Regions from separate parts of the Homo sapiens genome. Here region 1 is linked to region 2. Evidence: fine-mapped expression QTL. A gene starts in region 2. The other region holds a variant in brackets. All regions are shown on one strand. Distances are from middle to middle.

Region 1 (5,358 bases), 62 kb after region 2:
TGAGAGACAGACAGCGAGAGAGAGACAGTAAAAGAGAGATAGCCAGAGAGAGACAGACAATGAGACAGAAAGCGAGAGACAGAGAGAGACAGTGAGAGAAACAGACAAAATGATGGCGAGAGAGTGAGAAAGAAAGAGACAGCGAGAGAAACAGAGACAATGATGGCAAGAGAGTGAGAGAGACAGAGCGAGAGAGACAGAGACGGACTGAGAAAATGAGACAGAGACAGCGAGAGATGGGAGAGACAGGGAGAGAGAGAGAGAGAGAGAGAGAGAGAGAGAGAGAGAGAGAAGCGCCAAAGAGAAGCCACCAGGAGCGTGTGGAGGGGAAGCCAGGTGGAACTCACTGAAGGTGCAGGGAGAGGAAGGGGAGGCAGGAGTGAGAGGAAAGAGGAGAGGCAAATCCAAGGGACAGAAACTGGAGGCAAAGGAGGCAGAGGAGGGAGGGAGACCAAGGGCACAGGCCCTAACCACAGTGCTGCCCCTTGTCCCCGGCCCCCTTGTCTCCTTCTGACACAGTCGGTTGCTGTGGACGGGCACAGTGAGACTGGGGCCCCATCAGCGCCTCCTCTGGGGGTTGGGTACAGACGATGAGGAAATGACAGGGCGGGGATGAGGAGGAGGACCTAGCGCAGGGGAAGGAGAGGGCAGAAGACAGTGGGGGGTGGCAGTCTGGAGGACAAGGGAGAAGATTCCAGAAAGGCTGAGAGCCACAAGGTGGACAATCAGGAAAAGGTGGGGCTGGGTGGAAGCGTGTGGAGGACTGGAATATCGCCCAAGGGAGGAGCAGTGTGTGCAAGACCTAGAGAGGAGGAAACACTGAGGATCCAGCCGAAGAGAGGACACACAGGGACAGGGACAGCCTGTGTGTGTGTGTGTTATGGATAGGGGGAGGAGGAGGGGGGAGAGGAAAGAGGAGGAGGAGAAGGAAGAAGGAGGAAGAGGAAAGAGGAGGAAGGGGGAGGAGGAGGAAAGGGGGAGGAGGGGTGAGGAGGAGGAGGAAAGAGGAGGAGGAAAGAGGAAGGAGGAGGAGGGAGGAAGAAGAGGAAAGAGGGAGAGGAGGAGGAAAGGGGGAGGAGGGGTGAGGAGGAGGAGGGAGGAGGAAGAGGAAAGAGGGAAAGGAGGAGGAAGGAGGAGGGAGTAAGAGGAAGGAGGAAGAAGGAGAAGGAAAGATGAGGAAGGAGGAAAGAGGAGGAGGTGGAGTAAGAGGGAGGAGGAGGTTGCGGTGAGCTGAGATCGCTCCATTGCACTCCAGCCTGGGCGACAGAGCGAGTCCCCATCTCAAAAAAAAAAAAAAAAAAAAAAAAAGGGAATTTGGGGGCATGCAGAGACAGGAACAGAGTGGGAGCAGGGGTTGGGGGAGAGATTCAGAGAATGGGAGAGAGGAGAGGGCGAGAGAGACAGAGGAAGGGGGTCACAGAGGAGAGGTAGAAGGAGAATGGGGAGGGGCAAATCCTCTTTCCCGCCCGAGCCTCAGTTTCCTCATCTGCTCCCTCAGGTGGTGAGGAGTCCAGGGACCACCCGCCAAGTGTCTGCAGGGCAGGAAGGCCTGCGGAGGGGAGAGGGAGGTGGAGGAAGGAGGCTCAGGCTTGAATCCAGTGTGGTGACTGGCAGCAGAAGCGTCCCCTCCATGGGCACGGGCTGCCTCTCAGGCTCAGATTCTAGAGTGTTCCTTCCTAGAGTCCCTCCAGGCCTCCTTCAGCCTCCCCCACCCCACCCTGACCTGGGAGGGAGTAGCCATTGTCGTCCACATATTTTTCCAAGGGAGAAATCAGGCTGCAGCCCACATCCTCCTTCCTCCTCCTCTTTCCTGCAGCCCCGCACGGTGTAGCTGGCCACCCCTTCTAGGGCTGTGGCGGCTGAGGGGAAAGGAAGGGGCTAAAGAGAGTCGCCTTGGTACACAGTTGGCGCTCAATTGGTGCCCTTCCCCTTTCCTAGGGGAGAGCACAGAGAGTAGGAAGGCAGAGAGAGGAAGAGAAAGGGGGAATCGAGGGTGAGAAGGGGAGGCTGTATCTATAAAAAGCCTGGCACACAGTCGGTGCTCAATAACTGCCCAGGCCCTTCAGGACCACATGAAAAGGGAGAAGAAGAAAGTCCCGCAGAGCAAAAGCAGAAGGAGAGGCAGCCTAAAGAGAGGGACATAGAGCCAGGCACGGTGGCTCACGCCTGTAATCCCAGCACTTTGGGAGGCCTAGGCAGGTGGATTGCCTGAGCTCAGGAGTTCGAGACCAGCTTGGGCAACACGGTGAAACCCCGTCTCTACTAAAATACAAAAAATTAGCCGAGCATGTTGGTGGGTGCCTGTAATCCCAGCTACTCAGGAGGCTGAGACAGGAGAATCGCTTGAACCCGGGAGGCAGAGGTTGCAGTGAGCTCAGATTGCCCCCCTGCACTCCAGCCTGGGCGACAGAGCAAGACTCCATCT[CA/C]AAAAAAAAAAAAAAAAAAGAGAGAGAGGCACGGGTGGAAAGTGTGAAGCAGACCAGTAGGTGTTTGTTAAGTGTTATTTCTTTTCCCCAAGAGACAGGAGAAAGTAAAGGAGGAGTGAGGAGAGGAGGAAGAGGAGGAAGAGAAGGAGGAAGAGGAGGAGGAAGGAGAAGAGGAGGAAGAGAGGAGGAGGAGGAGGAGGAGGAGGAAACTCCAGCAGAGAGAATAGAAGAGACTGTTGTGTGGGAAGGAGACAATATATGTAAAGTGACTAATACACAGTGGGTGCCTAATAAATGCCCATTCTCCTCCCTGGCAGCAAGCACAGAGAAAGCAGCCAGGAGGAAGGGAGCAAGCGGAGAGAAGGAGAAAAGGAGAGAAGGGAGAACAGAGCCTGTGAGGCAAGCAGACAGTGTAGATGAAGCGGCAGCATACAGTAGGCACTCAATACATGCCTATTTCCTCCCTCAGGAAAGAGCTGGCAGGGCAGAGAGGAGGGGGAGAAGCTGGTGGAGAGAAGGAGGCAGGGAGAAGAGAGGAAATGAGAACAAGTACACTGGTGAGGTGGTGGGCACACAGGAGGCACTCAATAAATGCACATTGTCGTCCTTGGAGGAGCAAGAGAACAAGACAGAAATGAAGGCACAGACAGGAATGAGAGGAAAAGGTTGGCCCAGGAGGCCTCCGTGGGGGTGGAGGAGCAGAGGGAGGAGGGATCAGTGAGAGGAGTGTGGCAGAGGAGAGGATACGCAGGGAGGGGGCATTGCAGGTAAACCATGGGGCACACAGGAGGCACTCAATAAACACCTGTACCCTTCCCCAGAAAAGGACCCAGAGAACAGCAAGGGGATAAGCTGGCAGAGCAAGAGGGGCAGCGAGAAAGAGGTAGGAGATGAGGAGGGATGTTAATTGCCTGGCATACAGTAGGTGCCCCATAATTGCTTGTCTTTGTCCCCGAGAAAGAGCCGATGGGACAGAAAGAAGTTAGAGATAAGGGAAGAAGGCGAAGTGAAGGGTTAGGGGAGAATAAGAAAACTGTCTGGCACACAATAGGTACTCAATAAATGCCCATTTTCTTCCCTGGCACAGAGCAGAAAGAAGCAGAGACTGGTGGAGTCAGTGGAGACTGAAGGGCAAGAGGAGAGGAGAGAAAGGACATAATTGCTTGCATACCAGAAGTGCTCAATAAATGTAGTCCTTGCCTTGGAAGAGGGCAGAGAGCTCAGAAACACAAGGAAAGGACAGAAGAGGGACCGGGGAGGAAGAGAGTGAGGAGAGAGGTATGTAAGGTGTTTAGTACACAGTAAGTGCTCAAAATGTGTCCACTCCCTCTGCCAGGAGAGAGCAGAAAGTCAGAAAGGAGAGGACACCAATAGAGAGGAAAGAAAGGGGCCAGGCGCCGTGGCTCATGTCTGTAATCCTAGCACTTTGAGAGGCAGAGGTGGGAGGATCGCTTGAGCCCAAGAGTTCGAGACCAGCCTGGCCAACGTAGAGAGACCCTGTCTCTACAAAAAATACAAAAATTAGGCTGGGTGCGGTGGCTCATTCCTGTAATTCCAGCACTTTGGGAGCCAAGGTGGGTGGATCACCTGAGGTCAGGAGTTGAAGACCAGCCTGACCAACATGGTGAAACCCCGTCTCTACTAAAAATACTTAAAAATTATCCAGGCGTGGTGGCGGGTGCCTGTAATCCCAGCTACTCGGGAGGCTGAGGCAGGAGAATCGCTTGAACCCAGGAGGTGGAGGTTGCAATGAGCTGAGATCACGCCATTGCACTCCAGCCTGGGCGGCAAGAGCAAAACTCCATCTCAAATAATAATAATAATACAAAAATTAGCCAGGAATGGTGGTGTGTGGAGTTCCAGCTACTTGGGAGGCTGGGGTGGGAGGACTGCTTGAGCCCAGGAAGTCGAGGCTGCAGTGAGCTGCGATTGTGTGCGCTCCAACCTGAGCGACGGAGTGAGACCCTGTCCTAGAAAGAAAAAAAGAAAGAAAGGAATGGGGGTGGGGGGAGGAAAGAAGGTAGCGAGAGAGGAGCCATGTTCCTCAACTCCTCGGCGCATAGCAGATGCTCAGTAGATGCCCGTTTCCTTCCCAGGAGAGACCAAGCAAATCAGAAAGAGAAAGGAACTGGGGCAGAAGGGACAGGAAAGCAAGAAGGATGGAAAGTGCAGACGCGGTTAGGGGAATTGCCTGCCAAGCATCAGGTGCTTAATAATTGCCCGTTTCTTCCATGGAAGGAGCCAGAGGCACAGGAGGAACAAGTAGAGGGCGCCGAGGACGGCACACCCGAGGCGGGCACACCCGAGGCGGGCACACCCGAGGACGGCACACCCGTGGCGGGAGACGGAGTGTGTGAGGAGAGGCGAGGAGGCATTTTGGGTGCATACAGCAGGTACTCCATAAATGCCTGTCCCCTTCCCCAGGCAGAGCAGAGAAAGCAGGCTGGGAGTAGGTGGAGACCCCAGGAAGGGAGGCCAGGGGAGAAGGAGAGTCTGAGGGTGGAGGCCGTGGGCCAGGCCCGCAGGAGGTGCACCTTCCCCAACCCAGCAGCCGCTGTGGCCGACCCTCCTCCGTGGCCCAGCCCACAGGCCTCCCCAGCTGGCTGGCTCCTCCGGAGCCCTGACAAGGGCCCATTGTCCTGGGCCTGGCACCGCCTGGCCTGGCCTGGCCTGGAGGGGGAGGGGAGGCTGTCCAGCCCTGACCGGCTCTTGTCCCCTGTGTCTGTTTGTGTGTATTGGAGTGGGGGCGCTGTCTGGTCTGTCTGTCTCTGAGTCTCTCTGTGTCTCCCTGTCTCTCACGTGCTGTGTCTCTGTGACCTGCTGTCTCTCTCATTTCTGAGCTTACGGCCCCCATCTTGTCTCTGTCTCGCTCTGTCTCTCTCTGTCTCTTTCCGTGCCTGTCTCTGGTTCTCTCTCTGCATCCATCTCTGTC
Region 2 (5,358 bases):
GAGCCCTGGTTGGGACCCCCAGGGAGTCAAAGGCTGCGGGCCAAGAGGCCAGAGGTCCTTGAGCCTGGGTGGGCAGGTGGATCTAGGGTGCATGACTTGCTGCTTCCCAACCTTAGTTTGTCCCTTCTGTGAAAAAGGGAGAGAAGGAGGAGGAAGATCTCAAAAAGACTTTCCAGCCCAGTGCGGTGGCTCACGCCTGTAATCCCAGCACTTTGGGAGGCCGATGCAGGTGGATCACCTGAGGTAGGAGTTCAAGACCAGCCTGACCAACATAGTGAAGCCCCTTCTCTACTAAAAATACAAAATTAGCTGGGCGTGGTGGCATGTGCCTGTACTCCCAGCTACTTGGGAGGCTGAGGCAGGAGAATCGCTTGAACCTGGGAGGCGGAGGTTGTAGTGAGCTGAGATCACACCACTGCACACCAGCCTGGGCGACAAGAGCGAAACTCCGTCTCAAAAAAAAAAAACTGTTGCAGCCCCGTTGAGCCTTTGACACCGCCTGAAATCCACCCCACTCCCAGGAGGAGGAGGAGGAAGGAATGCCAATGACCTAGAGACACGAGAAGTCCATGTGGAGGCACACAGCAGCTGATGGCAGAGCCCAGGCTGGGACCTGCCCTTAAGAGAATGAGTGGGAAGGGGGAGGGAGGAAGGGCAGGTAAAACGTCCTCCCCAGGGCCCCCTGCAACGGGGAAGGTACTTTTTACAAAAGCTATCATTGTCACCCTAAATGTGGAATAAAATAAGATGCATCGACGTAGACAAACCTCCTGGGACCTTTTGTCAGGGACTGCAATCCTGCCCCTCCACTGAGGCCGCTGGCTCTCAGAGACACCGTGACATCACGGGTGATGATGAGAGGAGTTCAAAGAGAGAATTATATGCTGGCGCGGTGGCTCTGTAATCCCAACACTTTGGGGGGCCAAGGCAGGAGGATCGCTTGAGTACAGGAGTTTGAAACCAGCCTGGGCAAGATAGTGAGATCCCCTTCCCACCCGTCTACAAAAAAAATAAAAAATTAGCGGGGTGTGGTGGCGTATGCCTGTAATTCCAGCTACTCCGAACTACTGAGGTGGGAGGGTCACTTGAGCACAGGAAGTTGAGGCTGCAGTGAGCCGTGATCGTGCCCCTGCACTCCAGACACGGCGAGACCCTGTCTCAAAAACAAACAAACAAATCACAAAGACACCATACAGCAAAACCTATCTGAACCTTAATGCCGAGAAATAAGAGGCTTGACGCGCAGGCACAGAGGGTTCCGTTTATGTCTTCCTCTATTCCTGCCAACTGAAGTTCTCCACCTCCTCCCCGCTTCCCCTTCCGTCTGGGTGTCTGTCCCCTTCCCTCTGAATTGAGCCCTCGGGCTGGCAGCGAGGGACGCGAGGCTTCAGGTGGCCGCGGCACTGCAGGCCTGGGCCCCTCCCCAACTTAGCGGGGCTCGCGGGAGCGCAGTGGCAGTCTGCCTGGCAACCCGTGACATCACATGGAACTGACGCCGGATTGGCTGGACGCTCCCCGGAGGCGGAGAAATTTCCGGCTCGTAGGGGGTTTTGGAAAAGGAGGAGGGGGAAGATGAACAGGAAAAAAAAGCGGAGGGACTTGTTTTCCTCACACCGGGTCCCTCACGCTGCGTTACTAGCCAGGCAGTCCCCCAGCCTTAACCCTAAGTCCCCAACACCCTTTCCCTCCTTCCTCCCCACAACACCTGGTGTCCCCAAGCCCCGCCCCTCCCCAGGCCCCGCCCCCTCGGCTCCCCGCCGCGTCCAGAGCCACCCCATTCAGAAAGTCACAGGTCCCCCTGCCGGGAAGGGCGCCAACGTCCGGGCAGCCCTCCAGGGCCTTCCCAGCCTCCCACCCGCCCCCACCGGGGACGCCCACCCCCTACCCGCGTCCGGTGCCTGCCGTGCCCGCTCCGGGAAGAGTCGCGGGGAGCGGTCCCAGGAGGGGCGGCGGCCAGTCCGGGGTCCCAGATGGCCGGGGCCCCAGCTCTTTGGGTTTGCCCACGCCCGGGGCGCGAAACTCCGGAGTCCCAGAGCCGCGGCGCCCTCCCCGGAGGCGCAGGGACCTCCTCCCCCCGCCGCCGTCCTGCCTACGCTAGGAAACCGGACCCTCCCTCCCGGCTCCGGTTTCCCGAAAACTCCTGACTTGCAGATGCTAAGAATGGCTTCCTAGACCCTGTCCCTCCCCTCCCTGCTTCATGCCAGAGCTCTGGCCCGCAGCCCTTACCCCCTTGAGACCCTCAGTCTCTTCCTCTTCCTTCTCCCGGGACCCAGGCGTCCAGGCGCTCGTCCTTTCTAGGGAACCCAAGAATCTGGGACCCCAGTTGCTTCTGCTCCCAGACTCAGGGGTCCAAGCACCCAGTCCCCTCCTCCCTGAGATTCTGGAGTCCGAGCCCCAGCCCCCTCCTCCCTCAGACCCAGGTGTCCGAGCCCCAGCCCCTCCTCCCTGGGGACCTGGCTCTCAGCCATCTCCCTAGGTCCAGCTGTTATTTCTCGCCCTTTAGAACATGCGGGCGGAATGTGGGGCGGCCCTGTGGTCTGATGTCTCCCGGAGCCTTCTGGGAGTCTCAGGACTCATTAAAAGGCTCCCCTTAGGGGCCCACCTGTCCTCCCTAGGGCCTAGCGGGACGCGGCTGCGGTCAGAGGAGCAGGAGGAGGTCCCCCGACATGCCTGAGGCAAAACCAGGTGGCGCCAGGACCCCCTCCCTGTGTGGGGATGGGGCTCTTCTTTTCTGGATGGGGATTTGGGACCCCTCTGTTTGTAGGGTTGGGAGAAGGAGGAACCTTCGCTGTGTGAGGAGGAGGCTCCCTTTGCTGTGCGGGATGGGGGTTCCCGCATCAGTTTAGGGTGAGGGTCTCGACTCTGCATGGGGAAGAGGGTCCCTTCCCTTTGTGACAGGAGTTTCCTTCCTTGTATGAGATGGGGTGGGTCTCATATCTGTGTGGGGTGAGGGATCCCCTTCACTCAGCAGGGAGGGTGTTTCTTTTTCTATAAGTGATTGGGGGGGCATCTCTGGTGGAGATGGGATTCTCTGGTTGTAAATTGGGTTCCTTTTGCTTGATGGGGATGGGGGTCTGTGTGTGTAGACTGGGTTTTTTTGTTTGTTTTTGTTTTTTGGTTTTTGGTTTTTTTTTTGAGATGGAGTCTCGCTCTGCCCCCGGGGCTGGACTGCATTGGTGCGATCTCGGCTCACTACAACATCCGCCTCCTGAGTTCAAACAATTCTCCTGCCTGGGGTAGCTGGGATTACAGGCCTGCGCCACCATGCCTGGCTATTTTTGTATTTTTAATAGAGACGGGTTTCGCCATGTTGACCAGGCTGGTCTCAAACCCCCAACCTCAGGTGATCCACCCGCCTCAGCCTCCCAAAGTGCTGGGATGACAGGCATGAGCCGCCGAGCCCGGCCAGACTGGGAGGTCTTTGCATGTGACTGGATTCTCCACATCCGGGGATGGCATCCTCTGGGCAGGGTCTGGGCCACTTCTCTGAGTGAAGACTCAGAGGGAGCCAGGTGCAGGGGCTCACGCCTGTCATCCCAGCACTCTGGGATACCGAGGCAGGAGGATTGCTTGAGGCCAGGAGTTCAAGACCAGCCTGGGCAACATGGCGAGACCTTGTCTCTACAAAAAATTAAAAATCAGCCAGGTGTGGTGGTGCATGCCTGTAGTCCCAGATACTTAGGAGGCAGTTGAGGCTGCAGTGAGCTGTGATCACGTCACTGCACTCCAGCCTGGGTGACAGAGTGAGACCCCGTCTCTAAAAAACAAGCAACAGCAACAACAAAAATGGCCCAGTGCGGTGGCTCATACCTGTAGTCCCAGCACCTTGGGAGGCCAAGGTGGGTGGATCACCTGAGCCCAGCAGTTCAAGGCCAGCCTGGCCAACATGGCAAAACCCCGTCACTACAAAAAATACTAAATTAGCTGGGCTTGTGGGGGTGTGCCTGTAGTCCCAGCTACTCAGGAGTCTGAGGTGAGAGGATCACTTGAGCCCAGGAGACGGAGGTTGCAGTGAGCCCAAATCTTGCCACTGCACTCCAGCCTGGGAGACGGAGCGAGACCCTGCTGGGAAAAAACAGAAACAAAAACAAAAAATAGATTCCAAGGGACCTTCTCTGTAGGATATGGGGTGATTGTGGGTATAAAGATTAGTGGTTCCCATCTGCATGGAGTCACAGGGGAAGTCTCTGTATTAAGGATGGGGGAGCCTCATTTCTGTGGGCACTGAGGCTTCCCCGTGTAGGAATTAGCGGGGCTTCTTCATGCAGGGAATGGGGTCCTTTTTGCGGGGTTTGGGGACCTTCTTTGAATGGGGAACACTTTCTGTGGAGATGAGGCTTTCTCTCTATGAGGAACTCACCGCAGGAATCATGCACCGCTGGGCGGACCCCCTCCTGGGATGTCTGGTCCGCTGGCATCAGGCCAAGCAGGCTGTGGGGTGGGTCCAGCCCCTACTGTAGCTGCAGACCCAGCCGGCAAGGAACAGCAGGCAGGGCAGGGGAAGGATGCTGCGGTCAGCACCAGGTGTCCAGTTTCCAGCCCAGAGGGAGAGCTAATTATACCCTCGGACCCAAAAGGTCAGGGCGTGGTGGCCTGGGCGGATGGGGCAGGGCCTGCTGGGGGTAAGGGAAACCCGATCCCACAGACTCTCAGATCTGAGATAAATTTATACCTAGGGTGGGGGCCTGGACTCTTGGGTCTGAGGGAGGAGGGGCTGGGGGCCTGGACTCCTGGGTCTGAGGGAGGAGGGGCTGGGGGCCTGGACTCCTGGGTCTGAGGGAGGAGGGGCTGGGGGGTCTGGACTCCTGCGTCTGAGGGAGGGGCATGGGTGTGCAGACCGCATGCTCAACTATGACTGTCCCCTACCTTACAGCGGCCAAAAAGGCCCCCAAAGGCAAAGATGCCCCCAAAGGAGCCCCCAAGGAGGCTCCCCCTAAGGAGGCTCCTGCAGAGGCCCCCAAAGGTGAGGAGGTGCTCCCTCGGGCTCAACCGACCTGGCTTCTCATCTCCATCCTCCTCGCTACGCCTCTCCAGGCCTTTCCCCAGCCTCTATCCTTGAATCTGTCCCCGCACAGCCCCAGGGCTGACCCACGCCTCCCGTGCTCCCAGCCCTCCCGGGGCTCCCTGGCACCCGCAGGCAGAGCCCAGCCCCTCGGCTGGCATCGGCTCCGGTCAGCTGGCTGATTGATCACCAGGTCCGGCCCCGGTCTCTCTAAACCTCTCCCGCCCCAAAGGCACATTCAGTGCCCTCCAGTCCACAGATGAGGAAACCGAGGCCCAAAGGGGTGAGGGAGCCTGGCCAAGGTCACACAGCCACGAGGGTGACAGGTGGCCTTTCCCAGGTCAGGAAAAGCCATT

The links. PIP is the estimated chance that this variant, and not a neighbour inherited with it, causes the effect.
Region 1: its variant is the best candidate, but not a certain one, in a credible set for the expression of MYBPC2 in prefrontal cortex (CommonMind, PIP 0.72).

Annotation. Positions count from the first base shown.
Region 1 is chr19:50,491,790-50,497,147 of GRCh38, forward strand. No RefSeq gene overlaps it. Among named protein-coding and RNA genes, the nearest start is that of MYREM, 5.6 kb to the left of the region's middle. RefSeq lists enhancers at 317-376, 417-496. The variant CA/C (reference allele first, on the strand shown) is at 2,426.
Region 2 is chr19:50,430,288-50,435,645 of GRCh38, forward strand. It overlaps MYBPC2 (myosin binding protein C2), which reads left to right and starts at 2,605. Exons shown (of 28, transcript NM_004533.4): 1 at 2,605-2,685; 2 at 4,874-4,963. The coding sequence starts at 2,667. SPIB (Spi-B transcription factor) reads left to right here. Exons shown (of 6, transcript NM_003121.5): 6 at 1-1,027. RefSeq lists silencers at 1,722-1,811, 1,842-2,061 and enhancers at 2,411-3,169, 3,984-4,484.